Linked DNA regions of Homo sapiens. The protein of the gene in region 4 purifies or fractionates together with the protein of the main gene of each other region. This does not show direct contact. Each region holds a gene or a part of one and is shown on either strand. Other genes may lie near its edges. The genes, in order: ARPC1A, FGD6, CMAS and DBNL.

What was found.
Region 1: the proteins of DBNL (region 4) and ARPC1A purify together in Homo sapiens (co-immunoprecipitation; 2 studies listed by BioGRID and IntAct, with this or other methods). This does not show direct contact.
Region 2: the proteins of DBNL (region 4) and FGD6 purify together in Homo sapiens (affinity purification with mass spectrometry; 4 studies listed by BioGRID and IntAct, with this or other methods). This does not show direct contact.
Region 3: the proteins of DBNL (region 4) and CMAS purify together in Homo sapiens (affinity purification with mass spectrometry; 3 studies listed by BioGRID and IntAct, with this or other methods). This does not show direct contact.

What each region holds. Positions count from the first base shown.
Region 1 is NC_000007.14:99,362,074-99,366,762, reverse strand, and holds the end of ARPC1A (actin-related protein 2/3 complex subunit 1A), read right to left. Parts: intron 3,221-4,689; coding exon 3,130-3,220; intron 873-3,129; coding exon 834-872; 3' UTR 501-833; downstream 1-500. UniProt on the Homo sapiens protein: Probably functions as a component of the Arp2/3 complex which is involved in regulation of actin polymerization and together with an activating nucleation-promoting factor (NPF) mediates the formation of branched actin networks.
Region 2 is NC_000012.12:95,087,629-95,096,452, forward strand, and holds part of FGD6 (FYVE, RhoGEF and PH domain-containing protein 6), read right to left. Parts: intron 7,067-8,824; coding exon 6,964-7,066; intron 5,218-6,963; coding exon 5,071-5,217; intron 4,182-5,070; coding exon 4,079-4,181; intron 2,069-4,078; coding exon 1,941-2,068; intron 1-1,940. UniProt on the Homo sapiens protein: May activate CDC42, a member of the Ras-like family of Rho- and Rac proteins, by exchanging bound GDP for free GTP. May play a role in regulating the actin cytoskeleton and cell shape.
Region 3 is NC_000012.12:22,055,550-22,064,373, forward strand, and holds part of CMAS (N-acylneuraminate cytidylyltransferase), read left to right. Parts: coding exon 1-61; intron 62-3,017; coding exon 3,018-3,151; intron 3,152-5,282; coding exon 5,283-5,377; intron 5,378-5,731; coding exon 5,732-5,903; intron 5,904-6,731; coding exon 6,732-6,885; intron 6,886-8,223; exon of another isoform or gene 8,224-8,378; intron 8,379-8,824. UniProt on the Homo sapiens protein: Catalyzes the activation of N-acetylneuraminic acid (NeuNAc) to cytidine 5'-monophosphate N-acetylneuraminic acid (CMP-NeuNAc), a substrate required for the addition of sialic acid.
Region 4 is NC_000007.14:44,038,797-44,048,458, forward strand, and holds the start of DBNL (drebrin-like protein), read left to right. Parts: upstream 1-5,905; 5' UTR 5,906-5,941; coding exon 5,942-6,024; intron 6,025-9,662. UniProt on the Homo sapiens protein: Adapter protein that binds F-actin and DNM1, and thereby plays a role in receptor-mediated endocytosis.

The DNA.
Region 1 (4,689 bases), about 55 Mb from region 4:
ATGGCTTGGTGCCCCCTGGCAGGAATGAGTGTGTTCTCACTCTATGACCTGGTTGTTTCAAGGAGCCTGGTCCTCCCCACTCTCTCTTGCATCCTCTCCCGCCATGGGACACGCCTGCTTCCCCTTCGCCTTCTGCCATGAGTAAAACCTTCCTGAGGCTTCCCCAAAAGCAGACGCAGGCACCATGCTTCTTGTCCAACCGGCAGAACCGTGTGCCAAATAAATCTTTTTTCTTAAACAAATTACCCAGCCTCAGGTATTCCTTTATTGCAACACAAAACAGACCGACACAACCTACTTTGCAGAAGTATTGCAATGTTCAGAAACGGTTCTCTCTCACCCCTCACTAAATGGTGCTTTTTGGTTCAAGGTTGTATAGAATGGTACAATTTAAGAAACCAAGGATCTAAGATTTTGCCTAAAAAAAACTGAATCGAATGAAGAATTCGCTCATATTTTTCTACTAAAAATTGAAATACTACAAGGAAACAAAACCAAAACCACATTCAGTTCTTTTATTTAATTTTCTAGTGGACAATTTACATATCTCCCTCACCCTGTCTTTTAAGTTAGTGTGACAATTTTCCATAATAAACTACTTAAAGAGAAGCTTTGGTCAAGAATGGAATGAAATCGCAAAAAAACAAACAAAAAAATTACTGCCTTAAAAAAACCAACACTTTCACCAATTTTATATTCAAACAAAACCACACGGCATTGGCGTGATATGTGTTTTCAGTGTTTCCTTGGGGCTGGCTTCCTCGCCATCGTGCCACGGCACAGCTGCGGTCGGCCACAGTTTGTCATGCTGGATGGCGGAGGCTCACTCAGCTTCACATTATCCGGAGGCCCTGGATGGAAGACTCGAGGGTCTTGGAAAAGGTGGGAAGAGCACTGATGTCACTGAGGAGTGTCTACCCCGAGGTAGGTATGACACCACTCCCTCTTCCTCAGGGAAGGTTCTGCCTGTCCCCACCCTGAACCTGGCCCTGCCCCACCTGAAACAGGATCTCCCAGGACTCACCCCGCAGAGACACTCCAGGCCGGGGCTCCCCCTGCTGGCTCCTCCAGGCCAGGTGTGCCTTTTCCCCACTGCCACACACACAGGCTCTGGGCACACTCCTCACTCCTCTTTTTTTTTTTTTTTAAAGATAGGGTCTTGCTCTGTTGCCCCAGGCTGGAGTGCAGTGGTGTGACCACAGCTCACTGCAGCCTCCAACTCCTGGGCTCAAGTGATCCTCCTGCCTCAGCTTCTCAAGTAGCTGCAACTAAAGGCATGCGTCACTGCACCTGGTTTTTAAAAATATATATATGTATATTTTTAAATAGAGACAGGATCTCACTGTGTTGCCCAGGCTGGTCTCGAACTCCTGTGCTCAAGACAGGAAAGCAGTGAGGAGAAACGAGCCTCAGCTTCCCAAAGTGCTGGGATTACAGGAGTGGGTCAGTGCGCCTGGCTGCACCTGGCTTTTTTATAGAGATGGGGTCACGCTATGTTGCCCAAACTGGTCTCAAAACTCCTGGCCTCAAGCGATTCTCCCACCTCGGCCTCCCAAAGTGCTGGGAAGACAGGCATGAGCCACTGCGCCTGGCTACCTAGAGCTCTTTTTTCTAGCTCCATCTGTGCTTCCGGAGGACCACAGCACGGGCAGCGCCTCAGAGGCAGTGTGCGCTCTCTGAAGCCCAGGGCTGCCCTGGGTGTGCTGCACTTGCAGCCGAGGATGCTCGCCTGTGTCTTCTCAACTCACAGTCCCTCCCTCCAAAACCCATCGCAACTCAGGATGCCGCTCAGGTGCAACCTGTTCCCTGCAGTCCACGCATCCCCCTAGATTCCTCTGTGTGAAAACAGAGGCACTGGCTTCTCTTCTGAGCTCTGCCGAATCCCCTACCCAGCCCCCGTATCCACCTCTCTCTTCTACCAGACAGGCTCATTCAGATTGGATATTCTCAGTGCTCAGCATCATGCATGGCACCCAGGAGATATGTACTAAATGTTTATTAAATTAATTAGTGTCAGCTATAAATATATATCTATATAGTTAAACCTGGGCTGGTGTCCAATAGGGCCTGTTTCCAAAACAGCACTCCATTTTTCCTCAATGAATAAATGGACATCTAGAAGTAAAAATTCCAGTTCACTGAGAATGTGCCGTTCTTCTGCGGATGACTTTTAGGTTTTAAAGAGATCTCTGGCTGGGCGCAGTGGCTCACGCCTGTAATCCTGGCACTTGGGGAGGCTGAGGCGGGTGGATCACCTGAGGTTGGGAGTTCGAGACCAGCATGTCCAACGTGGAGAAACCCCATCTCTACTAAAAACACAAAATTAGCTGGGCGTGGTGGCACATGTCTGTAATCCCAGCTACTTGGGAGGCTGAGGCAGGAGAATCGCTTGAACCCCAGAGGCGGAGGTTGTGGTGAGCCGAGATTCTGCCATTGCACTCCAGCCTGGGCAACAAGAGCGAAACTCTGTCTCAAAAAAAAAAAAAAAAAAAAAGAGAGAGATCTCCAAGGCTGGCATGGTGGCTCACGCCTGTAATCCCACCACTTTGGGAGGCCAAGGTGGGCAGATCACATGAGGCCAGGAGTTCAAGACCAGCTTGGCCAACATGGTGAAACCCCGTCTGTACTAAAAATACAAAACATAGCCGGGTGTTGTAGTGTGCTCCTGTAATCCCAACTACTTGGGAGACTGAGGCAGGAGAATCGCTCCAACCCGGGAGGCGGAGGTTGCAGTGAGCCAATATTGCACCGCTGCACTGCAGCCTGGGTGACAGAACAAGACTCCATCTCAAAAAGAAAGAAAAAAAAATGAGAGATTTCCAGTTTAATGTCTTACATTAGGACATTAAACTGTATACTAGATTTAACATTTTGTTTCAAGAAATGAGAAACATTCTTCTCATAAGAGTTTTGTAAAAATATTCACGGAGCATGGTGGTGCATGCCTGCTGTCCCAGCAGCTTGGGAGGCTGAGGTGGGAGGGCTGCTGGAGGCAAGGAGTTGGTGGCTGCAGTGAGCCATGATTGTGCCACTTACTCCAACCTGGGTGACAGAGAAGGAGCCTATCTCTTAAAAAAAAAAAAAAAAGTTTTAACACAAACAAAATTTGTTCTGTTAGGTAGAAAATACCTTGAAATCCCAAATTGTCATGGCTCCATCGATGCCAGTAGTGCAAAATTTGCGACAATCTTGCTTGTCCACCTCATAAATAGAGACTTGACTGAAAAAAAGCAAAGCAAAAGAGATCGTAAGGTATGTAGTGGAAGTGAACACAAACATTCCTGACTAATAGTGTAAGGGCAGCTTAAGGAAATGAATTATCTTCTTCTTTATTTTTTAAATAGAGCTGGGATGCGGGTCTCATTATGTTGCCCAAGCTGGTCTTGAACTCCTGGGCTCAAGTGATCCTCCTGCCTCAGTCTCCCAAAATGCTGGGATTACAGGCATAAGCCACCACGCTCCACCAGGAAATGAATTATCTTTTAACTCCTGATTATGAACTTATCCATGAACATTAGGCTGCAACAATCTGGCTCAGAAAATACCCCAAAGCATATTATTACCAGATGTCCAGGAAAGACAAAACTGGCAAGGGGAGAAGTTAAGAACTTGCCTTGGTTAGCGTGACCTGGGGAAGCAGGAATGACCCAGCCCACACAGCACTCAAATGCTGGGAGCAGGTTGTGGGTAGGACCACAGCCATGGCGAAAACAGTATTTTTGTTTGTTTTTAAATAAACCAGAGGCATGATGAAGCATGACTGAATTCCATAGCTCCAAACAAAACCTCTCAAATCAGCCTCCAAGACAGCCAGTGCAGATAAGCCAACAGCCCTCCTTGAGTCTGAAGTGAATCATCATAAATGTTAGCAGCAGACACACCACTAGATTCCGACCAAGCTAAGCAGGGGAACAGATAAATGAAACAACTTGTCTTAGCCTAATTATCTGGAAGCTTTCAAGACAATCATCCATTGCTCAGACAATATTTTTCTTTCTCCTTTGAGATGTCTAGAACTTACCCGCCTCTTCCCCGACGCTGGGAAGGGGATGGCAAACTATGGCACACACTGCCTATGCCCGTACAGCCTGTGAGCTTAAATAAAAAAAAAAAACAACAAAGGCCAGGTGCAGTGGCTCACGCCTGTAATCCCAGCACTCTGGGAGGCCGAGGTGGGCAGATCACGAGGTCAGGAGATCGAGACCATCCTGACTAACACAGTGAAACTCTGTCTCTACTAAAAGATACAAAAAAAAAAAAAAAATTAGCCAGGCATGGTGGCGGGCGCCTGTAGTCCCAGCTACTTGGGAGGCTGAGGCAGGAGAAGGGCGTGAACCCAGGAGGCAGAGCTTGCAGTAAGCCAAGATCGTGCCACTGCACTCCAGCCTGGGTGACAGAGACTCCATCTCAAAAAAAAAAAAAAAAAGGGGGGCGGGGTTTTACATTTTTATTTTATTTATTTATTTATTGAGATGGAGTCTCACTCTGTCACTCAGGCTGGAGTGCAGTGGTGCGATCTCGGCTCACTGCAACCTCTACCTCCCAGGTTCAAGCGATTCTCCTGCCTCAGACTCCCGAGTAGCTGGGATTACAAGCACCTGCCACCAGGCTGGCGAATTTTTGTATTTTTAATAGAGACGGGGTTTTGCCATGTTGGTCAGGCTGGTCTTGACCACCTGACCTCAAGTG
Region 2 (8,824 bases), on a different chromosome or scaffold from region 4:
TGCCTGGACTCTGGAGATAATAAATGTATGTTGTTTTAAGCTGCTAAGTTTGTGGTAATTTATTATGCAGAAATGGAAAACTAATACACATGCGCTCTGTGAATTTTTAAAGTGTATCTTTAATTATATTAATTTCTTATAAATTTCATGAAAATAATTATATATTGTTTAGTGGGAAATTTAAGATCTAACATTAAATTAGAAATATTTGTTAAGCAACAGTAGGTTTATATAAATACATCCTTATAAAGACTACCAAGTAATTTTTTAAAAAACTAGAATTGTTTCCTATCTCAGTGAAAAAAAAGAGGAAAAAAATCCAACTAGAATGTTTAACATTCAAATGAGATTTTGCTTAAAATATAGTTACATTGGAATCCTACTATATTCTTATCTAAGTTGTTATTAATGTTGCTCAAAATATATTACATTTCTCCTTTATACCAATTTAGGACCAGTTTAGTAGCCACACAAGAAGATCAACCATAATACTGAATAGCCATGACTAGACCTATATTTTCAAAGATAAAACTGGTGTTCACCAACTTAATCACCTAACTGATCCACAAAACATGTCTTCCAATGATTTGATTATTTACAAAATAAATCAGGGTTGTGGGGGTGAGGGACTATAAAACTACATTTTGGGTACACTGTATACTGCTCAGGTGATGGGTGCACTAAAATCTTAGACTTTACCATTATACAACTCATCCATGTAACCAAAACCCACAGGTACCCCAGAAGCAATGAAAATTAAAAAAAAATAATCCAACTCCAACTCAAAAGCTGTAGTCTGCCATTACTGAGAGTACTGAGGCTCTAAATGTAATTCTAAAAAGAGGAGTTTCTAAAAATATTTTAAACATTACTAGAATAAGAACACAACTTCCCAGTTCCTCAAAAAGTTAAACATAGAATTACCATATGAGCAAGCAATTCTACTTCTGGGTATAAACCCAAGATAAATGAAAACATATGTCCACACAGAAATTTGCACATGAATATTTCTGTCAGCATAATTCGTAATAGCCAAAAGGTGGAAACAACCCAATATTCAACAAGAGATGGGTGGATAAACTGTGGTATACACAAACAATGAAATATTATTCAGACATAACAAGAAACGAAGTATGGATACGTGCTGTAATTTCCATGAACCTCTAAAACACTGTGTTTCAACTGGGAATATACTCGTAACTTTACATAAGAAACATGATCTTGATCAAATTTTTAGAGTTCTTTCCTTCCACTATGTATGCTAGAACACCTCCTCAGTAAAAAAGCAAGAGAACCAAATTAAAAACTACTCTGCTGGCCACAAAACTAGCACAGGCGGACCTCACTAATAAACTGATCATAACGGAGTAGCCAAAATGGCAATGCTGTTTGTTCTTTGACATCTAAATTTGAGGAAATGGGATAGGATATCAACAAAGTCTGTGGATTACACCATTAGCAGGTCTAAGCATACAGGCTATTATCACTATTTAAAGTTTTCTTTTAAAGGAAGTTTAAAGGAAAGACAACCTACTATCAGTGATATCAGCTGTGCATAACCAACCAATGCCTACAAATAAACCGTGCAGATCACTAAATGCTAACAAAATGCCCAAAATATCCTGTGGACTTCTTCCCTCTGGCAAGGATCTTGCTCAAAGTCATTTTAAAAAATTCATGTGTGTCCAACTTATCTTTACTTTCTATCACTGCTATTAAATGTTCTCTAAACCTTTCAATAGCCATTTTCTAAATGACTTAGGTCAGACGGGAGACCAAGCAAGATTGTGAGGCATCAGCCACATCCATCATCAGTATTAAAATTCATGACTTAATAGTTGTGGGAAATGACATCTTCCTTTATGAAAGAAAAACGGTGTATTATATGCATATGAATAATTCAGCCTCTATCACATTGCAAATTTAATGGAAACACTTACTTCTTTGAGAGCAGCTGGGATTTTTTTCTGTTTCCTCCCTGATGGAATGCTATGTAAGACTGATGATAAGGCACTTGAAGGAGATTTGTGATTTCCAGGAGATCCAATCCTAGGGGAGTGCTGGTGATCTAGAACAAATCAGGCATGCTTATGTAGGCAATGCTCAGCATTTTGCAATTCAATTTCATTCAAATCCATAAACACTGTTGCATAAAATATCCATGGAAGGACACTAAGAAACAACATTGATAACTCCTGGAAAAGGACAATGGATGGCTGGGAGTTGAGTGGCAGGAAGACTTTCTACTATCTATGGTTTTATACTTTTTGAACTTTATGTGAAAGGATTACTCTTGTGTGCCTTTAGAATTATGAAACACGTGACTATACTACCAACTTAAAAAAAATCCAAAAAACCTTCCCTACTGCCGTAAACCCCAAAGAACCCTGGTATTGTTAAGTGTCTAGATACTAGACCAGCTACAATGAACAAAGCAGCTTAAAAAAGGGGGCTATCGGACACGGATGAAGAAGTAATGAATTCTGATTGCAGAGGGTTCAGGGAAAGCTGAGAAGATAATAAGATAAAAGCTGGCCATGATGGAGTAAGTAGGAATTTGCCAGGTTAAAACAAGCAGGAGGAACACTGTGCGCTAAGAGGTCAGCATGAGCAAAGGCAGAGAGGTATGAAATTAAATCATCTATCTGGAGAATAATGAGGCCAGATTAAAAAAAAGGGGCTGGTTTGAAGCAAACTGGACTGTTGTTTATATGTTTTAGGCTGGGGAGTGACATGAGCAGATTAAATTTGGAAAAATAGATTATATCTGGCAGTACTAAGGAGAAAGGACTAACAGCAAGAAAACTTGTTAGGAAATTATTATAGTTGTCTAGATGAGAGATAACGAAGGCCTTATTAGGGCTGGGATGGAGAAATCAAGACAAAGATTTTTGATGATAAAATTGACAAGAGTTACTGACCAAATGGGTATAGGTGATGAGGAAGGAGAATTCAAAGACGAATTTTGAATGTTTGCAGCTTATACCATATACCCAGACTAAAGAGAGGAACATAAAGGAAGAGATGGATGGGTCTTCTTGGAAAATGTACACAAATAATAATAAATTATTCATCTAGAAATATGTGGACTCTGAAATACCATGTCATCCACTTAGAAATTCCTCCTTGCTAATGAAAAGCTATCCTTCAGGGAAATGAAGAACAGACTTTCAAAAATTTAGATCCTGGCCAGGCGTGGTGCCTTATGCCTGTAATCCCAGCACTTTGGGAGGCTGAGGCGGGTGGATCATTTGAGGTCAGGGGTTCGAGACCAGCTTGGCCAACATGGTGAGACCGCCCCGCGTCTCTACTAAAATACAAAAATTAGCCTGGCGTGGTCACGCGTGCCCGTAATCCCAGCTACTCAGGAGGCTGAGGTACGAGAATCGCTTGAACCCGAGAGGCAGAGGTTGCATATTGTGTCACTGCACTCCAGCTTGGGCAACAGTGCAAGACCCCATCTCAAAAAATATATATAAATAAAATTTAGATCCTACAGGTTTCAGGAATTTAACTAAAAATCTCTTCCCAAAACATAGACCTGAGCAGTCCTGCTAAGCTGCATTCATTTTACTGGAGGATACCTGCAAATAATGAGCAGGGAAATAGGAAGTATCATTTTTGTGTTCGGTCAAAAAGCTGCACATTCAGATGTACATTAACATCTCACTAAATCAGATTAACTGACTAGAATTAAGCTAACGAAGTGCCACCTAAGTAAAGAGAATTACTTTACATATAGATAAAATGATTTGTAATGAGCACACTATCATGTGAAACTATAGACTTCAAAATTACTTGAAAGTTAAAGTTCCCTTTTACTGTTTTAAGTGTTTTACCCTGTAATTACATTTCTACAGTTTTCTTAGCAAAACCTTTTACACAGACTGAAACCAAATTTCAGCCCAACCTCTCCCAGAATTACAACAAAATATGAATTAAGAAAGCTTACTACAAATTTGGAGATAAGTATCAACAATCATATTGCTAATGTACCGAAGGTGTTTCTCTCAGAAGGTTGTTTGAAAGCATCTGGGGAATAAAGGAATTTTTGGTTAAATCCTTACTTATATATTACCTAATTTCTGCAGTTCTTGGAAACAATGTTCACATACTCTTGCTGGTTGATTTTTCAGGTAATCTAAGCCATACTTATTAGACGAACAAGCTTGGCATACAATCTGAAAACACATTGGAATTATGTCATTAATTTCATTAGAATAACTTGTGTTTCTACACCATAAAGTATGTTACAATTTACAGTGCTATCCACTTTTCAAAACAGTTTCAGAGTCACTGAGTCTCACTTCGTCTCAATAATAACTCTGGAGTTCAGGCATATAGTGAACTAATGCATAGTACCACACTTGAAAGATGAAGGGGCCACAGATGATTACTTACAGAGGGCTGACTACATAAAATAATAAAGTAAAGCAGTTAATATATGCAAAATGCTTAGAACCGTACCTGGCATGCAAAAAGGCCTGTGAGGTATACTGATCACCAGCACTGTCATCATCATAATCACTGCTGCAGCAACGACCACGTCTCTGCAACTCTACCAAGTTTTTGGGCTCCATACTAAATGCTCTCTAAATACAACCTCATTTAATTTTTAGAGTGACTCTCTGATGTCACTGTTTCTACACCCATTTTACTAATGAGATCATGAAGGCTTAGAAACATCACTAGAGATAACTTCAACACTGAACATTCCCCGTACTGAATACTATGGATACTTAGTACTAGAGAGATGCAGTTTAAATAATAGCTGTAAATGTGAGGGCCTGTTTAATTGTGGATTTGTTAGATTTTGTTTTTGAATCAGTTATTACTGATGTTCTAATGTAACTCTGAAGTAGGAGGGTGGAAGTTCACTAAGAAGATTGCCCCTGCCCCCTAAATATTTAGAGAAAACACCATTCATGTTTGCTACCATTAACATAATAATAATAATAGTTATTGTTATTCTTGAACTATAATGGTTTATGAGGGGAAATATGCTTCCTCACTATGTACAGCCTGGAGACAGTAAAGACCACAATGGAGATGGGTGTTATCATCGCCAACCTTTCCACAGGCCCGGCAGTGGTGTCGTCTCCAGGTGAGAGTGAATTCGCTTGTGCAGATCATACACATTGTGGCTCTGGTATCAGGAATCCAGATGGGAGCCTTCGATCCAAGAGGACTAACTTCTTCTTTATTTTCTGAGTCTGCCTGTGGAAGAAGAACAACTTCTGATTATCTCCATGCACACTGCCTGCCTTTTTATTCGGCAGTGGCATCTCACACTACCAAGATGGGGATGAGGGTCAGGCACAGCAGCTCACGCCTGTAATCCCAGCATTTTGGGAGGCCGAGTCGAGTGGATCACATGAGGTACGGAGTTTGCGACCAGCCTGGCCAACACAGTGAAACCCTGTTTCTACTAAAAATACAAAAATTAGCCGGGTGTGGTGGCGGGTGCCTGTGATCCCAGCTACTCAGGAGGCTGAGGCAGGAGAATTACTTGAACCTGGGAGGTGGAGGTTGCAATGAGCTGAGATTGTCCCACTGCACTCCAGCCTGGGCAACAGAGTGGGACTCCGTCTCAAAAAACAAACAAACAAAAAAGATGGGGATAAAATATGGGCCATTGGCTGGGCATGGTGGCTCACGCCTGTAGTCCCAGCACTTTGAGAGGCCAAGGTGGGCAGATCACAAGGTCAGGAGATGAAGACCATCCTGGTCAACATGGTGAAAACCTGTCTCTACTAAAAATACAAAAATTGCCAGGCGCGGTGGCTCACGCCTGTAATACCAGCACTTTGGGAGGCCGAGGCGGGTGGATCACCTAAGATTGGGAGTTCAAGACCAGCCTGACCAACATGGAGAAACCCTGTCTCTACTAAAAATAACGACAATTAGCATGGTGGCGCATGCCTGTAATCCCAGCTACTCAGGAGACTGAAGCAGGAGAATTGCTTGAACCTGGGAGGCGGAGGTTGTGGTGAGCCGAGATTGTGCCATTGCACTCTAGCCTGGGCAATAAGAGCAAAACTCTGTCTCAAAAAAAAAAAAAAATACAAAAATTAGCTGGTCATGGTGGCACGTGCCTGTAGTCCCAGCTACTTGGGAGGCTGAGGCAGGAGAATCACTTAAATCTGGGAGGCAGAGGTTGCAGTGAGCCGAGATTGCACCACTGCACTCCAGCCTGGCGACAGAGCAATACTCCATCTCAACAAAAAAAAAAAAGAAATATGGGCTATTGGCCAGGCACAGTGGCTCATGCCTGTAATCTCAGCACTTTGGAAGGCCGAGGCAGGCGGAAAACCAGAGGTCAGGAGTTTGAGACCTGCTTGGCCAACATGGTGAAACCCCATCTGTACTAAAAATACAAAATTAGCTGGGCGTGGTGGTGCATGCCTGTAATCCCAGCTGCTAGGGAGGCTGAGGCAGGAGAACCACTTGAACCCAGGAGGCAGAGGTTGCAGTGAGCTGAGTTTGCGCCATTGCACTCCAGCCTGGGCAATAAGAGTGAAATTCTGTCTCAAAAAAAAAAAAGAAAGAAAAAGAAAAGAAATATGGGCTATTATATTTTTCACGTGCTCGGAATACTAAGTTTAGCTACAATCTAAAAATTTTCTAATACAAAATTAACTTAAAAAGACGCCTGTGGTAGTGGGATGGCAGCTGATTAGTTTCTGCCTTAAACTGTTTCGTATTTTCTAAATTTCCTACAATGAAGTTTTATAGCTGGGAAGAAACATGAATATGCTATATGCTATCACAGACTTGCAGTGAGACAACAATAGGAGGATAAACTTTTAGCGCTGAAATGAGACATTAATCTGTAGAGTAACTCTCTGATGTCCAGTCCAATCATTTTCTGAAACACATGTTGCTTTCTTAAACCCCTGTGAAATGTTTAAGGTAAAAACTTTGAAATGCACTGGAAAAAAAAAAAAAAGGAGAAAACAATACCTCATCAAGACTCCTACTAGGACAGAAGGTGATTCTTTTCTTGGCATACTCTTCTATTGCCCTGGAAATCGCTTCTAGCCATTCATCCCTTTCTGTGGCAGAACTGTTGGGGGCAAAAGGTTTCATCAACCAGATGTCAGTTTTTGTTCTTTTCCTTTTTCTTCTTTTCTTTCTCCCATGGCAACAGATCCCACCACCCTCCAACAATACCAGTCAAAAAAGTAGCAACTCCTCAGAGTTGAGGCAGGTTTAGTGAACAGATCATCAGAACAGACAACAGAGAACCCGTGATGGCATTTTAGCAAATACAATGCTTATTTTTTCTTTCCAAAAGTTCTGCTTTATATTAAATAGCTTTTGAACTCTCCTAAACTTGAAAATATTTTTGGTTTGGTTTAAAGGATAATTGTACAATTAATAATTATGATTATTTATATAGCCAGGGAGTTTCTTAAGACATCATCCTAGAATTTAAAAACATTCCAATAAGTCAAGTTTCAAATTCCAATTTATAGCATAGAATACTAAATATCTTTAGATTACTAAGGATTACTAAAATTTTCTAGGAAGGGCACTGGGGTGAAGGGAACATATTTTTTTGTATTAGAAAGCAGATGTTGACAATGAGGTTCACACGGTAAAGGCTGCAGTTTTTGTTAGGGCTTCTCTACCTATTTCACCCACCAAGTTCTCTGTCCCTACCCAGCTCATCAGGAGGTATCTTTAATTCAGCGCTAGATGGGAATGGGCCAAATAGGGGCAAACTTGGTCAGACAAGGGTATTTTTTTTTTCTGTTTTTCCAACCATGCCTTTTTCCCAAAACCATGTTAACTCCAAATCATTACTGGTATCAGCATACTTATGAAACCACTGTTTAAATTTTGTTTTGTATATTTAAAACTGAGAGGCACATGTTAGGTATTATAAATAAAAATAAATATATAAATCTATACATACACAGTACAGAAAGAGCAGAAAAGAGGAAGGGAGAGGGAATGAGAGAAAGAAAGACTTTAATAAATAATTAAAACTCCATCATAATAAAACAAAATTCATCAGAATGGGATTGTGACTGTGTTAAAAAAAAAAGTCTGTAGTTTAATTTACAGAGGCATTTTGAGGTATACAGAAGTAAAATCGGCCAGGCGTGGTGGCTCACGCCTGTAATCCCAACACTTTGGGAGGCTAAGGCGGGTGGATCATTTGAGCTCAGGAGTTCGAGACCAGCATGGCCAACATGGTGAAACCCTGTCTCTACTAAAAATACAAAAGTTAGCCGGGTGTGGTGGTGCATGCCTGTAATCCCAGCTACTCAGGGGGCTGAGGCAGGAGAATTGCTTGAACCAAGGAGGTGGAGGTTGTAGTGAGCCGAGACAGTGCCACTGCACTCCAGCCTGGGTGACAGAGCAACACACTGTCTCCAAAAAAAAAAAAAGCAGAAGTAAAATGACCTGATATCTGCAATTTGTTTTAAAATAGAAAATTATGAAACAGGAAAATCAGTGGCAAAATCTTGATGATTATTTTTAGTTTGGGTGCCTGAATATACAGTTTCTGGTATTATTTGCCCTAACTTTAAGTATATTTGAACTCTTAAAGAGTGTTTCTAAAATAAAAAATTCCACCATTAATAATGGTACATATAGACATATGTTGCTGTATTTTAGAGAACCCAGGTCAGATCAAGAATAGAAACCACTCACCTTCCCTACAATCATCATTCTCAGAAAGCGCCTCCCTAATCCATGGCTTGAGTGCCATTTAGAATGTTCATTCATGTGGATTAAAAAAGGTAGAGATCCACTTTACAAATAAAATTTTAAATCAAATTAATTTCTCAAATTTTCATTACATACAAAG
Region 3 (8,824 bases), on a different chromosome or scaffold from region 4:
GATTCTGTTTTCTCTGTTGTGAGACGCCATCAGTTTCGATGGAGTGAAATTCAGAAAGGAGGTAATCTCTTTTCAGTCTTTATTTTAGCTGATTTTATTGAGAATCAATTTTTTTGTATATAAATATCCTTTAGGCATGAGGAGAGTAAAAGGGGAGCTGTAAAAGAGAGTATTTGACTCATTACTTTAGTAGGTAATGACATTTACAATCAGCTGTAAATCTGTTATCGAGCCAACACAGCTAGACCAAATTAATTCTTTGCTTTACTCTTTACAAAGGGACATTCTAATCCTCTTATTTCTGTTTGCCTTTTGAGGCAGATATGCTGTTTTTCTAGATCAAATACTTTTATGTTTGTTCTAGACATGTTTGATGAACTCCATACAAGTCATATAGAGATAGAAAGCATCCACCAAAGTGTTCTGAAGGATTTCAAGAATGACATTTTGAAGTTCTTCCCCAAATTCCTAACTCCATATATAAGAAGGGTTCCCTAGGGTTTACTAGGCATTTTGCCTGCCATGTCCAGTGTGCTATAAATCTTATCCAGAGAATTATTATAAACACTGTGTTTTTCCATTCAGTAATGTACATTTTAGTTGTTTCGTAGGGATTCCATTTTCTGTTGAAATTTTCCATTTTTTTATCCATTTTAAAAAAAGGTCATTTCCTCTAATTTAACATATTTTTGATAGCTATTTGAAAGTCCTTGATTGCAAATTTCAACATCTAGTCACTTACAGTTCTGTAATCTGCTTCTTTCTTGATTGTGAGTCACCTATTTCTGCCTCTTCATTTGGCTCATGTTTAATTGTATATCTGGCATAGACACTTGAGTACATATTTTCCTCCAGAGAGGGTACACCTTTTCTTCTATCAGGAAGATAGGATAAGGGGCTGATCACTTTGATTCAATTAGGAGTTGGGCTGGGTTGAAACTTTAATTTCATCTCACCTCTTAGTATAGGTGTCTTATTAGGAGATACATCTTGTATGTGTTACTGACACTCACACCCATACCCTACTCTTGCTAACAAGACTAAGGGATCTGATGACCACAATACTATTATGATGTCTCCCTGCTTTCCAGCCCATTCCCAGCTTCCCACCCAGTACACTCAGCCAAAGTCTTGTAAGGGGGAAGCATTAGGTGGGGAAAAACGAGCTATATGTTTGTGGTTCCTACAGATGACAATCTGTAACTCAAGTCCACAAGGTCATTGAAAGCCCTTCTAGTTTTTGCCTACCTCAGCAGAGTCCCTCTGATTATGCAAAGCTTGATCTTTCTTGTACCTTCTCCTCATACTCAGCAGATATGACCAGGGAGAAAGCAGCCACCGATACTAGGAAAGATTTGTCCCTCTCTTTTCTTCAAAGTACCACTTGAATTATCTAGTTGGTTTATTACCTGTCTCTACCCCTAGATTGTATACTTTTTGAGAATAGAGAGAGTTCTGGTCACTACTCTGTAGCCAGTGCCCATAAAGCTATGTTATCTCTAGCTATTTAATTTGTATTTGCTAAGGTTTTTTCCTGGGTTATTTCAAACACTGGGGTGGAATTGAACAGGGGATGATTTCGTTAAACAAGTAAGTAGAGGTTATTCCTAGAAGCCTGTATAAACACAGAAATGGCAGCAAAAAGTGAAGAAAGATTCTGGAGAGTAACCAGCTATTACACACACACACATACACACACACACACACACACACACACACACACACAGATTTGAGGAAAACTCAGTGGAAAGGCAAAGGAATCTCTACATGACAGTACCAAAGTCTTCATTGATTACATTATGTTCTATTCATTAATGTTGACATTACTGAGCCTTTATTATCAGGTATACTCATAAACATAATTTATTATTATGTTTAGTATATTTTTAACTAATGGTAAGAATGTATAATATGTTACATAAACATTTTCATCAATATAAAATCTTCAATAATTTAATGGAGAAATCTTTACTTTTCAGCAATAATTGTATAAAAACAAGTTCTCAACCACATTAGATAAATAAAACTTATTTCTGTATATGCAAACAATGAGAACTAGATTAAAGGGCCCAAATATTAATATAGGTATTTTATGACAAATTCAGTTCTTTTAAAGCTACTTTAAGGTTGTCTTGATGTCCTCCCAAAGCATAATATTTGTATGAATACCTTAATTGTTCCACATTTCATTATAAAATACTTTAGTTTTCTAGTAGCTATTGGAAAGCAAAGATAAATCATCAGAATTATTACAGATTTTATTCCTTTAAAAAAGTTCTTTTTTTTTTTTTTGAGACAGAGTCTCACTCTGTTGCCCAGGCTGGATGGAGTACAGTGGCGCAATCTCGGCTCACTGCAATCTCCCCCCCCCGGGTTCAAGCGATTCTCCTGCCTCAGCCTCCCAAGTAGCTGGGATTACAGGTACCCACCACCATGCCCGGCTAAATTTGTGTTTTTAGTGGAGATGGCGTTTCACTATGTTGGCTGGGCTGCTCTCGAACTCCTGACCTCAAGTGATCCGCCCGCCTTGGCCTCCACAGTGCTGGGATTACAGGCGTGAATCACCACATTCAGCCTAAAAAAAGTTCTTTATCAGGCCGGGTGCAGTGCCTCATGCCTGTAATTCCAGCACTTTGGGAGGCCGAGGTGGGCGGATCACGAGGTCAGGAGTTCGAGACCAGCCCGGACAACATGGTGAAACCCCATCTCCACTAAAAATACAAAAATTAGCCAGGTGTGGTGGTGCATGCCTGTAGTCCCAGCTACTTGGGAGGCTGAGGCAGGAGAATCGCTTGAACCCAGGAGGCGGAGGTTGCAGTGAGCCAAGATCGCACCATTGCACTCCAGCCTGGGTGACAGAGCGAGACTCTGTCTCAAAAAAAAAAAAAGAAAAGTTCTTTATCTAGATAAAGAAATGCTCTGCATTCTGAGTTCATTTTTATTAACTTTTTTAGTTACTAAATTAACACTTTCTATATTCAGGGCAACGTGGACTTACTCTAACTTTTTGCTTTTAGTTCGTGAAGTGACCGAACCTCTGAATTTAAATCCAGCTAAACGGCCTCGTCGACAAGACTGGGATGGAGAATTATATGAAAATGGCTCATTTTATTTTGCTAAAAGACATTTGATAGAGATGGGTTACTTGCAGGTTTGTACCTTCATTTTGCATAACCCTTTTAAGCGCTTTTGTAGGCATACTTTGAGTTCTAGGGAAGAAGTATGGTACAATTTCTTTATGATAAAGAAAAGTATCAACCTATAGAGGAAAGGTAATAGCCAACAACATTTGCTATCTGAGGCATTTATCCTGCAGGTTTACCCCAAAGTGATCTTTGGAATCCATTCAGTAAATATGCAAGGAATTCTGCTACAACGATAAAAAAATGAATCAAGTACTGGGTGTCTACACATGTCCTGGTACTCATATTATTCCACTCAAAACTACGTAATCCATGTTTGTGTTATAGTTATATTGTGGCTGTAGGGTTGAATAACTTCTATTGCTTTAAAAAGACAAATAATTTCATAGAGGTGAAAAGAGTTACAACCTGGGTGTCAGGAAACCCGGAATCTTTTTATATATATATATATATATATTTTTTTTTTTTTTTATTATACTTTAAGTCAACTGCCTCTTACTATGTAAGCTTGAATATGTATCATTTTATCTGTCCTGACTCTCATTTTCAAATAACAGATTTAATGTCTCTCTCATTTTAGAGCCTGCAACATGGTTGCATCATATATTTCTTAACTTGTTAATTTTAGTTATCATTATTATTTATTATTTACTGTGTACTTCGGAGTAGGTGAAACACTTTGCATATGTTATCTTATGTAATCTGCATAGCGAATGAATGAAGTGGACATTTCTACCCAGTTTTACAGAGGAGGAAAACTGCCTCACTGAAATATGAAGTAATTGACTCAAGGCAAAAACAGCTAATAAATGGTACTGTCAGGATTTGGATTCAGGTTCTTATGTTACTCAAGAAATAGCGGTTTTAAAGAGAGAGAGAGAAACCTCTCCATTGTGTAATAAAAATTCTAATGGGACTATTATTCTGAGCAAAAGAGAGAAAAACATTTTTACAAATCTTCTGGTCAATGTGTAGGCAAACTATAGACTAGCTGTTTAGTTAAATTTAAGTGTTCAGAAAAATTGGATTTGACACACATAGATACTACCATTTTTAAGCTTTTTTCTAAGGAGGACCATGATTAACCCATTCCTAAAGTGTGGAGAAAAATGTTTCTCATTAAAACAAGGTTTATGAAGAGACTGACAATTCTGAAAAAAAAAATGAAATTGAAATTGTCCAGTAATTGATCTTGTCATTCAAATAATTACTATCAGAAGAAAGACCCTTTCTCTTGCTGACCCTTGCCTAGAATCAAGAGACTGCCCTTGCCTTTGCCTGCATGTGACTTGGATGACTATTAGTCATTTTCATCAGTAGCTCAGAGATCTAAGAAAACTCTGTACAACAGATGCTACAGTTATTTTTCCTCCCCTGTGTTGCCTGTTAGTTGCAAATTAGAACAGAAGTTCCAAAAACCTTAATACTGCTTTTGGATGATGACAGGAGAGACTTCTTGAAAAAAAGGAGGATATGATTAAGGGATTTCCACAAAATCCCTTGTGGTCAGAAACCTGGAGGATGTAATATTTCTGCTTTTTTCAATATTAAAATAGAAATTTTCTTAAATAGGGAACTTGAACTGTTTAGATAGAATTTGAAAAATGTTAAGGTTATTTCTTTTGTGTGAGCTTTCTCCTTAAAAAAAAAAAAAAAAAAAAAAAAAAAGCTGGGCGTGGTGGCTGAAGCATGTCATCCCAGCACTTTGAGAGGCCAGCTTGAGGCCTCAAGAGGATAGCTTGAGGCCAGGTTTCCAAGACCAGCCTTGGCAACATAGCAAGATCTTATATCTACAAAAAACTTTTTAAAAATTTAGCCGGACATGGTGCTGTATACCTGTAGTACCAGATCCTTAGGAGGCTGAGGTGGGAGGATTGCTTGAGCCTAAGATTTCAAGGTTATAATGAGCTATGATTGCACCATTGCACTCCAGCCTGGGAGGCAGAGTGAAACCCTGACTCGAAAAAATAAAAAAGTAAAAATAAATTTAAAAATCATTTTTATGTGACTGATTTTTACTGGGTTATTCATTTTTCTCAGTACTGTAGAAATGAATTCATTGTTCTGTATTATAATAAAGTTTTGATATATGTGAATGAATATTAAAAACAGTATTCATGACATTTATACTACCTTTAGGGTGGAAAAATGGCATACTACGAAATGCGAGCTGAACATAGTGTGGATATAGATGTGGATATTGATTGGCCTATTGCAGAGCAAAGAGTATTAAGGTAAAAACAAATAAACCTTTATAACCTTTGTACTAAATCTTAATAATTATATTTCTAGATACTGATTTCTGATACTTCAGACATCTTAGGATCTTTGTAATTACTTTGTTCATGTGAGGAAGACATGTAAAATATGTGTTTACATGGCTTCAATAAAGTGAGAAACATTATCTGGCTAGACCACACTACTTTTACTTACTGTACTATATGTTAAAATATATATGTGAAGTAAATTTGGAGAGTAATGTTTGAATAATTGAATGGAGGGTGACATTTCATGTATTGGTTTAGCCAGATGAGAGGGAGTGATTAGTACTGCACTTGTACTCAAAGGTCTATTTTGGTTTCTTTTAGATATGGCTATTTTGGCAAAGAGAAGCTTAAGGAAATAAAACTTTTGGTTTGCAATATTGATGGATGTCTCACCAATGGCCACATTTATGTATCAGGAGACCAAAAAGAAATAATATCTTATGATGTAAAAGATGCTATTGGGATAAGTTTATTAAAGAAAAGTGGTATTGAGGTATGTGCTCCCTGAATATAGCAGTATTTTATAATATTTTGATTCAGGGTCAAAGAACATGCAAGGAATTAAGAGATTTAAATTTTTAGTATTAACTCTTAAAATATCTGAAATTTGGCCTTCATACGCCTAGAAAATTATTATACTATTTAGTTTTAGATGAGTAGAATTAGGAATTTGTTAATCAGCAAATAATATTTCTTGTTTATTCAGTAAATATAAACATAACTACTTTTAAATGGGAGCTATCTAATGTTTCCCAAAGGATCTTGCAGCAAGAAAGATTCCCTAGATAATAGGTGTACCATTTTAGAAAAGGACGATATCCTGTGGATTTTTAAAATCTAGCTTATTCTTATGAATGACATTTTTGATTCAAAATAACTTAACGTTTAAGTGTATTTTTTTAAATGAAAGCTAGCTAAGATAATTATAATTTACCAGAAATCCTAAATATGTATTGCTAAGCAGCACAAGAGAGAGGTTATAGACTTTCCTCTGGATAAATTGAATTATAGGAGAATCTTAGAGTAGTATCAGACAATATATGTTGTAATTTTTACCTGTAGATAGAATCCTTTCTATTGTAGAAAATAAAATACTGTGTCTCACCTTTATTGGGCTATGAGAAATAAAATGAGCTTTGTTTTAAAGCATCATGATTTTAATTCGACAGTCAGTTTTCTTACTTGGACCTTCAGAAAGTCAAAAGATGACTCGTTTGTGATTTGGACTGTCTACAAGGTCAATTATTATGAAAGATTTCTGTTTTCTTCACTTTTTAATTTTTCCCTTCTTCCTCCAATCCTTTTTTTTTTTTTTTTTAAGGTGAGGCTAATCTCAGAAAGGGCCTGTTCAAAGCAGACGCTGTCTTCTTTAAAACTGGATTGCAAAATGGAAGTCAGTGTATCAGACAAGCTAGCAGTTGTAGATGAATGGAGAAAAGAAATGGGCCTGTGCTGGAAAGAAGTGGCATATCTTGGTTGGTATCTTTTTATTCACCCATAGTAAAATGGACCAGGAATTAATTATTTACTTATTTTTAAAGAAATGACAAAGCACATCCTCCAAATGGGTATGATTGTAGGGAAATAGGAACTCTTTTAACAAACACTGCTGATCAAACTGTTAAACTGGGACAGTCTTTCTGGAGGTTAGTTTGATAATAGGTATCAAATGTAGAATGATTATTAGCACAAGCTGTGAAGTCAGACTGTACCACTGATTAGCCAGTTGTGATAAGATGAATGTTGTTTCCTCATCTGTAAACTGGAGATATCGAGAGTACCTATTACCGTAGGGCTCTGGAAGGGATTAATAAAATAATATGAGTAAAGCACTTAGCAGAATTTCTAGTACATATGAATTACACTCTGAATAGTTTTTGCTGCTAATTGAATGTACATACTTTTTCCTCCAAATTCCAATTCCAGGAAAGAAATGAGACAAATGGGCCAATAGTGAAGTTAAAAGAACCCACTTAAATGTCCTGTGAAAAATAGAATATCCCTAAAAAGGATTACTATGCAACCATTACAAACAGTGCTGTGACCTGTATTTATTTGCATGATCAAATATAACAATGTTTTTCACTTGGATATTAAGCAATACACTTACTTACCAGGTACCTATGATGATACGCAGCATGGAACTGGTTGTGGGAACTGTAGGCTTTCTGCTTGCAGAGCTTACAGTCTGATGATGTCAACATTTTAAAATTGATAAGTTATTAAGATGCATAATAACTATAAATCATGTATGAAAGCAGTATTTACAAGGGTAATATGAGCCTCAAAATAAGAAGCACAGGAAAAACTTTGGGAGCATGTGATCTAGAGACTTCAGGAATAACCCTTAAACCACACATGAAGATTTAATGGACATAAATGCTGCAGAATGTTTGTTAAAGACAGATCCAATTTTTATTAGAAGAAAATTTTAGTGGAATGTATAACAAATTCCAACTATACTTATTATCTTTCTTTGGGATGTTAAGCAAGCTTCTGTATACCTTAGTTTTCTACTTAGAATATAAACACAAACCAAATTTTATAAAGCCATTAGAAAGAAAAACAAAGATAATATAAAATGCTTAACATAGTGCCTACAGATAGTAATAAGTGTATCATTTATATAGGTAAAACTCTAGAATTATATGTGTCAAAATGTAGTGATTATCTACAAATAGTGATAATTAGGATGATTGTGACTTTTTTGCTTCTATTTTTTAAAAAAATATTTCTACCACGAATACGTATTACTTATATGACATTAAAAAAAAAACACACACACACACACTTTAAAAGGAGAGGTAAGAAAATGGAGAAGAGCATTTACATTTTTATTTAAAACTCACAGCAGGCCAGGCATGATGGCTCATGCCTACAATCCCACCACTTTGGGAAGCGGAGGCAGGCAGATCCCTGGAGCTCAGGAGTTTTAGACCAGCCTGTGAAACATAGTGAGGCCCCATGTCTACAAAAAAAAAAAATAATAACTCACTCACCAATGTTTTATATGGGTGACATAAGTGTATAAAAATATATTTCTTAAAAAAATCAATACTTTTATAAGTAAAATTTAGTAAATAGAGCTTAAAGGCTGGATTATGCAAATACTAACTTTTTTTATTTTAGTGAAAACGATTCAAATTTCAACACATTTAATAATAAATGAGAAAATTTCAGTAGATAAGCATAGAACAAATGTAAAAGAAACTCTCTTCAACCAAGATTGTACTATTGTATGTGGTCTAAAGTATAGTAATAGTTTTACTCAGAATGGTGAATTAAAGATACTGGGAGCTTCTGAAATGCATCCTATTCCAAAAAAGGGGTTAACAGAGAGGGAGGAAAAGGATATCGTTATGTCAGTATGATTTAGTATCTATTTTTATTCTTTAAAAATGGTAATTTTTCAGC
Region 4 (9,662 bases):
CCTTACCCACCTTGGAGCTGGGCGTCTTCGCGAAGCTGAGGGCCTCGGTAGTGAGGGAGAAGTAGAGCTTCTTGAAGGAGGAGGACATGAGGGGGCCCTTGCCCTTGGTCCTGTGGATGAAGAGTGGCCCCTCCTTCACAGGTGGCGCCTGCAAACTCAGCGTCCGCTGCAGGTCCAGCTCTGCCAGGCCAGGGAGGGAGGGGAATAGAGAGCCCAGGGAATGAGGGCGGGACTGGGGGGGGGGGGCGGAGCAGTGGGCGGGGCCATGGGGCTCAAGGGCTGAGCAAATCTGAACAGCAGGCAGTGGACGTAGTCATGGGGCTCAAGGGCGGAGCAAACATCAACAGCTGGTGGTGAGCGGGGTGACAGGTGGACTGAGGAAGGCAGGGCCATGGGCTTGGAGGCGGGACACGCGTCAGTAGCAGGTGGCGGCGGGGCTATGGAGCTCAAGGATGGAGCAAATGTCAACAGGCACAGATGATGGGAGGTGAGGCCATGGGTCTAGGGGTGGGGCAAACGTCAACAGCAGGCAGTGGGCAGGGTCACAGGAAGCACAAACAGTGGTGCGTGGGTCTATGGCCTGGGGGCCTGGCAAATGTCAACAGCAGGCGGTGGGTGGGGCCACGAGAGGAACAAACAGCGGTGGGTGGGGCCGTGGGGCTCAAGGGCGGAGCAAACGTCAGCAGTAGGCTGTGGGCGGGTCTGTGCAGGGCGGCGCTCACCGTCCTTCTCCTCGATGTCCACGAGCTTGGTGATGAAGTCCTTCAGCTGCGCCACGCCCTGGCGCACGGTGGGCTGCAGCGGCTCCATCCAAGCCTCCTTGGCCCTGGAAGCCGGCGTGTCCATGTTGCCCACGTTCTGGACTGCCTGGAGGTGACAGCAGGAAGGACCAGGTTCTGCTAGGTTAGGGGCCTAGCCACTGCACCCCCTCCCACCCCCCCTCCCCAAGTCTTTGCTACTCAGCTGTAGCGATGGAGGCAGAGGCGACAGAGGCCATGCCCACGGGCCCCCTCCAGCCCCACTAGGGATCAGGGAGGAGAGGATCATGAAGTTTGATGCCTTATGATAACTGAGACCACTTGGGCCTTCCTCTGTAGGTTTAACTGACGCTGCTGCACTGGATACCCCACCCCGGTGCCGGGCACATAGGTGCAGCCTGAGAGTAAGCAGACCTGGGTTGGAAGGTCCCGCGATTCACCACCGACAGGATGGGCGGCCTTGGCAACCCCCGACCCCTCGCAGGCCTGTTCCCTTATCCATGAGATGGAACTCGGACAAGGTGGCCACAGGAAGGCTTTGCAAACTGTGAAGTGCAGTGCCTACGTGGGCGTGCCAGTGGCCTCGCCGGAGCCGGTAGGGAACACTCTGCAGTCCAGGCCAGGGCCCCGGTAGGACACCCAGCTGTGCATCCCGCCCGTGGCCGCAAGGCCCGCACCTTGGCCAACAGGAGCAGGGTGCGGCTGGTGCGGGCGTCCGCGTGGCGCTCCCGCAGGTGGAAGAGCTTGGGCGACATGATGGCGGGAGAGAAGAAGCGCAGGCACAGGAAGCTGGTGACGGCGATGAACGGTACATTCTGGAGGGGTGCGGAAGAGCGCGGGCTGGAGTCCCCCAGACCAGGGCTCCTGGCAGCCCCCTCCCCTTAGGCTCCGTCCCTGACCCTCGCCGGGACACAGCCTCCCTGGTCCTCCCCAGCGCTCCCTGGTTCCCCACCGCTCTTCGCCCGCCCCTCGCCCCAGCCCAGTCCAACCCGGCCCAGCCTAGCCCAGCGGGTGGAGGGCGCACCTCGTGCTGGGCGCCGGGGAAGCGCTCGCGCACGCGCCGGAAGAGCTGGCGGAAGGTGGCGCGCACCACGGCGGGGCACGCGGGAACCGAGCGGCTGAGCGCGCTCAGCAGGGCCCCCAGGTGGGCGCGCAGCGTCTGCGCGCTCTGCTCCAGCACCTCGGCCTCGGTCTGCGGGCGGTGCAGCCCGGAACACCTGCGTGGAACGGGGCGGGTTGGCAGAGGAGGTCACGGTCAGCGCCAGGGCCACGACAGGAACAGTGGCTCTCACAGCAGCCGGGACACGGACACAGGGGACAATACACGGGTGGGCAGAAGCACAAACACACATGCTGACAGGGCCTGATCCCAACCCGCTGCCGCTGCGCCCCGCACCCCCCCGGAGTTACCCCCGGCCTCACCCTACATCCTTAACTTCCACTTTGCTGGGGTCCAGCTCCACGTACTTCTCCTCAAACACCTTGTTGATGATGGGGCCCAGGACGCCGTGCAGGTACTGCATCCCGGCCACCTGGGGACCACCGCAGGTCACATTGATCCTGTCTCCCCCAGTCCCACTCCAGCTGCCCACCTTCTCCCGGCAGCCGCCCTTGCACCGTTTGCCTGCCGTATCCGCCCAGGAGGGGGACAGGTACACAAGCAGGGCAAACTGTTTATTCATGAATGAATGAATGAGTGAGTGAATGAATGACTAGAATTCTTAGCCCTTGTAATCCTAGCACTTTGGGAGGCCGAGGCAGGAGGATCACTTGAGGCCAGGAGTTTGAGACCAGCCTGGGCAACATAGTGAGACTGTCTCTAACTTAAATTTTAATCACACACACATTCTTTTGGGGGGGGGGGGTGCGGGGCACGGAGTCTAGCACGGGGCCCAGGCTAGAGTGCAGTGGCGTGAGCTCACTACAATCTCTGGCTTCTGGTTCAAGTGAGTCTCCTGCCTCAGCCTCCCCAGTAGCTGGGATCACAGGTGCCCACCACCATGCCAGGCTAATTTTTGTATTTTTAGTAGAGATGGGGTTTCGCCATGTTGGCCAGGCTGGTCTCGAACTCCTGACCTTAAGTGATCCGCCCGCCTCAGCCTCCCAAAGTGCTGGAATTACAGGCATGAGCCACTATGCCCAGCCACATTCTTAACCTTAAAGGGCTCTCAATATGGAGATAGAACACTGGAGTCGAAGTCCCAGCCCCCTCTGTCGCTCTCTCTGAAGCTCAGTGTTGTCATTTGCAAGATGAGGACAATATAGCATGCAACCTCACCTTCAGAAAAGACTCCATGGACTTTGAGGCCAGAGAGTTGCTCCGGAACAGGGTGTTGGTCTTTTGTTACTTGGTCATAAGTAGGCGTTTTCCTTTTGATTTGGTTCTAGGAGGTTAGTGTGCATTGGCGTTCTGTTGCCTGCTTCCAGCCCCTATTCTCCTGCCTCAGGTTCATTAGAAAAGACTGAGTTTGGGGCCGGGCAGGGTGGCTCACACCTGTAATCCCAGTACTTTGGGAGGCCAAGGTGGGCAGATCACGAGGTCAAGAGATCGAGACCATCCTGGCCAACATGGTGAAACCCTATCTCTACTAAAAATACAAAAATTATCTGGGCATGGTGGCACGTGCCTGTAGTCCCAGCTACTCAGGAGGCTGAGGCAGGAGAATTACTTGAACTTGGGAGGCAGAGGTTTCAGTGAGCCGAGTTCGTGGTCACTGCACTCCAGCCTGGCTACAGAGTGAGATTCCATCTCAAAAAAAAAAAAAAAAAAAAGAATGAGTCTGGCCCCTTTTTGTCTTTCTCTCATCCTCTTTGCCTTTCACCATGTTATGATGCAGCAAGAAGCCCCTCATCAGATACTAGTGCCATGACCTTGGACTTCCCAGCCTCCAGAACTGTGAGAAAATAAATTTCTGTTCTATGTAAATTACATAGTCTGTGGTACTTTGTTATAGCAGCACAAAACAAACAAGACAACAAGCAACAATCATGTGAACAGAAAGAAAAATGGGCATAACAAATGAACCATGTTTTTGTCCAAATTAGGTTCACAAGCCCTTATCTGCACCATCCAGACTCAAACACCTTAAGATTTTGGTAGTTCATTTGGTAGCAAAAACTGACCTTAATTGTCATGAGGATATTTAGAGTCGTCTTATATTCCACTTAGCTGATTATTCACACATATCACACACTTAGCTGATTATTCACACATATCACAGCAAAAGCATGAACATGTCTGATTACCAGTTCCTGTCCAGATCCTGTGATAAGGGCTTACCCAGGACATACATGGTATAACTTTTCTGAAATCTTAGATTGAATTCCAAAGCACATCTGGACTTAAGGGATTGTGGATATATACATATATATACTATATGTATATATATACACATATGCATATATATACATATGTGTATATATATACATGTGCATATATACATATACATATGCATATATAATATATGTATACATATACATATGCATATATATACATATGCATATATACATATACATATGCATATATACATATGCACATATACATATACATATGCACATATATACATATGCATATATACATATGCATATATACATATATGTATACCTATACCTATGCATATATATACATATATGTATACCTATACCTATGCATATATATACATATATGTATACCTATACCTATGCATATATATACATATATGTATACCTATACCTATGCATATATATACATATATATGTATACCTATACCTATGCATATATATACATATATGTATACCTATACCTATGCATATATATACATATATGTATACCTATATCTATGCATATATATACATATATGTATACCTATACCTATGCATATATACATATATGTATACCTATACATATGCATATATATACATATATGTATACATATATACACACATAGTATATATACATATACACTATGTGTGTGTGTATATATATACACATATATATACTATGTGTGTGTATATATGTATATATATACTATACTTTTTTTGAGACAGAGTCCCGCCCTGTAGCCCAGGCTGGAGTGCAGTGGCGCTATGTCGGCTCAGTGCAAGCTCTGCCTCCCTGGTTCACGCCATTCTCCTGCCTCAGCCTCCCGAGTAGCTGGGACTACAGGCGCACGCCGCCACGCCTGGCTAATTTTTTGTTTTAGTAGAGACGGGGTTTCATCGTATTAGCCAGGATGGTGTCGATCTCGTGACCCCTTGATTCGTCCACCTCGGCCTCCCAAAGTGCTGGGATTACAGGCGTGAGCCACCGTGCCCGGCAGGATTTATATTTTAAGGAGGCAGGGGAGTTATTCTCCATGGGAGGAAATAAGCCGTGAGCTGCCTTGCGCTTTGGCATGTTTCTCTATCATACAGATAAGAAGCTAGTTCAGTCAAGTGTATGCAGATTTGTGGATGGAAAAACTGGTGCTCCCAGGAGGAGGGGAGCAGATTGAGGAATTACTGACACCTTCTAGGGGCGACCAGCCAGATGTGCAGGTGAAGCACAAGACAGGTTCTCTTCATGCCTCCACTATCCTGGCCTCGACCAAACTGCAGAGGGAAAAACTCAGGTGAGAGTGAGAAAGCACAGTCACTTTCAGTTAGGTTTGTAGCGGTGTGATCGTCACTTAGCACTCATTTATTCGTGTATTCATACATTTATGCATGTTTCTTTCACAGATCAAACTGTTGAGGGTCCACAAACAGGCTGAAGACCTCGTCTGGAGGGAGACTGCAGTGAACCCAAGATCGTTCAAATAAGCGCATCGACATAACAAGATTTAGAAAAGAATAAGCACGGTGCTGTGAGAGCAGCTAGCGGGGGCTGGACTGGGTCCCTGCGGCCAGGCTTCCAAGTCGAGCTGCCGTTTGGGTGGGACCAGAAGACGGGCTAGTCTGCGCCCCAGGATCCCTCCCTGAGGACAAACAGAAGGCCGGGTCCTCCCTTCTCCCGCTTGTCCTTCGGCATTCGCGGGACCTGCATGCTAGACCAGCTGGCCGGACAGCTCGCTAGGACCCGCGGGTGCGGCTGGCCCCTACCATTTCCGCTTCCTGCCGTGGGGCGGGGTTTCCGGTTGTCGGAGGCGAGGCTTGTCGGCTGTCAAAGGGGCGGCCCGGCCCGGCCCGGAAGCTACAGCAGCGGCGCGGAGACTGCGGGGCGGGCCATGGCGGCGAACCTGAGCCGGAACGGGCCAGCGCTGCAAGAGGCCTACGTGCGGGTGGTCACCGAGAAGTCCCCGACCGACTGGTGGGCGGCGAGACGGGCCAGGGTCGGGCCAGGGGCTGCCTCAGGGGTGGGTCTGTCTGGGGCGAGCGGGGGACTCGGGGGGAGCGGGAGCGCGAGCGCGGAGCGGTGCCCAGGCAGGTGGCCTGGGGCTTACCTGTCTGCCCCTCCACACCGCAGCAGGAGTGCTGTCTCACCCTCGTGACCCCTTGCCCCGCCGATCGTGGACAGGTTAAACCCGGCTTGGGGGGACCCAGTGAGTCCCCGCCCCTCCCCCTGTCGCTCGCCACCCACTGTGGGCTTCGCGGGCTTCCATGTTGGATCCTCGGCCTGGTCGTGCTTGCTAGCTTCGCCAGGTTCTTCTTTCCAGTCCTGGGACTTCCCTGGAGAAGGGGTTCCTGCACAGCCCTCTCTGAGAAGGCGGAAGCCACGCCCGGTTTTTTTGCAAACGCTGTGTTCGGGGATGGGCATTTGAGAGCGGCCTGGCAGCCGGGCTGTGAATGTGAGCCCTGCCCTGGGGGCTTCAGACGAGGAGCTCAGGGATCTGGGTTCTTGGCTGTCTGTGAACGTGGACTTCAGAACTTTCGTTTCTCCAAAAAGTGTACTCTTTCTTGTGCCTGAGCCATGGGAAGATGTACGAAAGTAGGATGCTCGCTATCTATTTGGGAAAAGGTCCCATTTTCCCTCTACCACCCAAGATATCCTCACTTTCCTCTTTGCTTAAATTGTTTTTACTGACCAGTTTTGAGAAATCCCAGTTCTGAGAAATATGCTGAGTATGGTGGGCTAAGGTGACCAACTTTGGGGAATAGAAACTGGGCCTTGGAGTCTGAGTCGTGGTGGGGCCACACTGTGGTCAGCACTGAGGCCCTCCCAACTGTCTTCCCCTTGTGTGGGGGCCATCTCCACTTGTGTAAGTGCTTTCTCATCTCCTCTGCTCTCCGTAGTGCCCAGCACAGAGCGGCTTTTATGCAGTGTACTATTGTGACCCTGAGGATGTTATGGCTTTGCTTTTTCCTCAGCCCTGGGCCATTAGGGGAAGAGCTTTAGAACACCAGTTGCTTGGTTCTATGGGGTCTCTGTAGACTCTCCTGTCAGGTCTGAGTGCCCTGGATGGCACTTATGCCAAACAGCACATCTTCTGTTTTGGAGGCATCTAAAGAAGGATATCTCGTCATTTCCTTGGTGGGGTTTTCTGCCTGCTTTATAATCCCTCAGATTTACCCACGTCAGTCAGTGTTATTTTTCTCAGGAGAGTTTCTAGATGTCAGCCCTCTGTTTTGCCTCTCTCCTATTCCTGTTCGTGTTTCTCTTAGACCTCTCCTGTTACTTCAAACCCAGTCAAAAGTATCTCTGCAATGAGTGCCCCATTTTCATGTCCACATCATACCACTTGGCTTTAGAACCCAGAAGAATCTTTGCCCCTCTTCAGCCCTGCCAAATTAAAGATTTTGCTTCTTAACATGCTCTTGATCACTCTGTTTACCCTGGCAGACTTACCTAGGAGCTTCCTGGCACTCCTCATCTATCTCCCTTCCAGGTCTCTCTTCATCATCAGTCTTCTCAGGAACCATCACTGGTTTGGGATGATGCCTCCCAGCCCACCTGGCAGTTTGGGCTTCCCTCTTCAGACCTCCTATGTTCCTAGCCTTTCCTTGGGCTGCTTACGAGAGCTGTCTGCTACCACTCCTGGCCCGGTGCTTACCCACCCCATCTACTCTCTGTCCCTCATGAGGGTTGTGGAGCCTCCTCTTTCCCCTCATGAAGTCAGAACCCACCCATCTCACTGGACTCATCTGCCCAGACAGCCATGCTATGCTCCCTCCCTACCTCCAGGCTCCTGCAGCACTACAGGTTGTGTCACTCAGCAGCATAACCCACTGACCTCCACCCTCATCGTCACAGCCATTAAGGTAGTTACTCAGCAGATACTATGTGGCAGATTCCTGCACACTGCGGAAAAATATCTGGACCATGTCACTTCCGTGTCTGTAACTCTACAGTGGCTTCCTGTTGCATGTTGAATAAAGCCTAGACTCCTTGCCCTGCTGATGCCCTGCATGACCCAGAACCTACCACCCCTTTCATTTACCACACTGTGGCCACACCTGTTTGTCACCACTCTGGCCGTCTTTCTCTTCCTCAAACTTACAAGCTGGTTCCTCTTCAGAGTCCTTGCTCTGCTGCTTCCTCTGCATGGAGCACACTTTTTCCACATCGTCCCAGGTGGCTCCCCAGCCTTCACTTCTTGGCCCCGAGGTTGCCTTCTCAGAGAGGCCTTCCTTGATTCCTAGCTCCTTGTTTGTAGGCACTTTTTCCCATCTTTCTGTTTGACTTCCTTCAGACACATGCCAGACACAAAATATGCTGGAAATCCTTATGGATTTTCTTGTCACCTTTATCTCTTACTAGAAGGGGTGGGGTGGGCTCTGTCTCTGTCCTCGGTGCTTGAGGCACGGTTGTTACATGTGGCAGATGCTTAGATGAAGGATGGACCAAGTCATACAGAAAAAGTGGTAGAGATATCAGAGGAAGAAGAGGTGGTCTCTAGTTTGGTGGGTCATAAGAGGTTTCACACACACAGTGCTGGCATTGGGGAGGGCAGATAGAGTGGGGAGCAACCATGACATCAGCTCTCCATCTTGGATCTGTCTCCCGCCCCTGCTTACTCCGTATCTTGGCATGGTTTGTTCTCACCTGGTTCATGTGTCACCTTCAGCACCTGCTTCACTCTCTAATAGTACGTTAGTGTTAGGTGTGTGTTTTTTCTTCCGTTAGAAAGTAAGTTCCATGGGCAGGACCTTTTAGGGATTGTTCATAGCTGCATTCCTGTAACTAATAAGCAGTAGGCTCTCAGTACTTATTTTCAAAGGCACTATTGAATTATAAGATGCTTGACACTCCATATGCCTTGCTGTTCAGAGGCCAGTGCACCATGTTTTTTCATGTTGATTTGAAACTTCCTTCGCCCTTCTTTCAAAAGGCCTCTGAACTGGGAATGAGCCTCTGCGCTGGGAACATTCTTAAAGGTGGCCTGGGGTAGAGAGGGATCAAGTCAGAGGGATAGGTGGCAGGCATTGAGCTTGGCTCTTATTATATTAGCTGCTGAGTCCCTTTTTTTTTTTTTTTTTTTTTTTGAGACAAGAGTCTTGCTCTGTCGCCCAGGCTGGAGTGAAGTGGCACGATCTTGGCTCACTGCAACCTCTGCCTCCCAGGTTCAAGTGATTTTCCTGCCTCAGCGTCCCAAGTAGCTGGGATTACAGGCACCCACCACCACACCCAGCTAATTTTGTATTTTTAGTAGAGACGGGGTTTCCCATGTTGGCCAGGCTGGTCTCAAACTCCTAACCTCAGGTGATCCACCCGCCTTGGCCTCCCAAAGTGCTGGGATTACCGGCATGAGCCATCGCAGCTGGTTGAGTCCCTTCTTGCAAGAGCTGGGTTGAGCTGCCATCTTCTGTTACCTGCTGCTTGTGCCAGCTTGCTATCTTCTGGGAGCCAGGGCTTTGTGGCCATCAAGAGGAATGGGCTTCTTTCCTCCAGGGAGTTCCCCCCAGCTCATGCTGGCAGTGTGCCACCTCCCAAATCTTTCTCTTGTTTTTCTGTGTTCTTTTCTCTAGTTCCTTTTCTCTGAGTGTTTCTCATTCAGTGTTTCTCTCCTG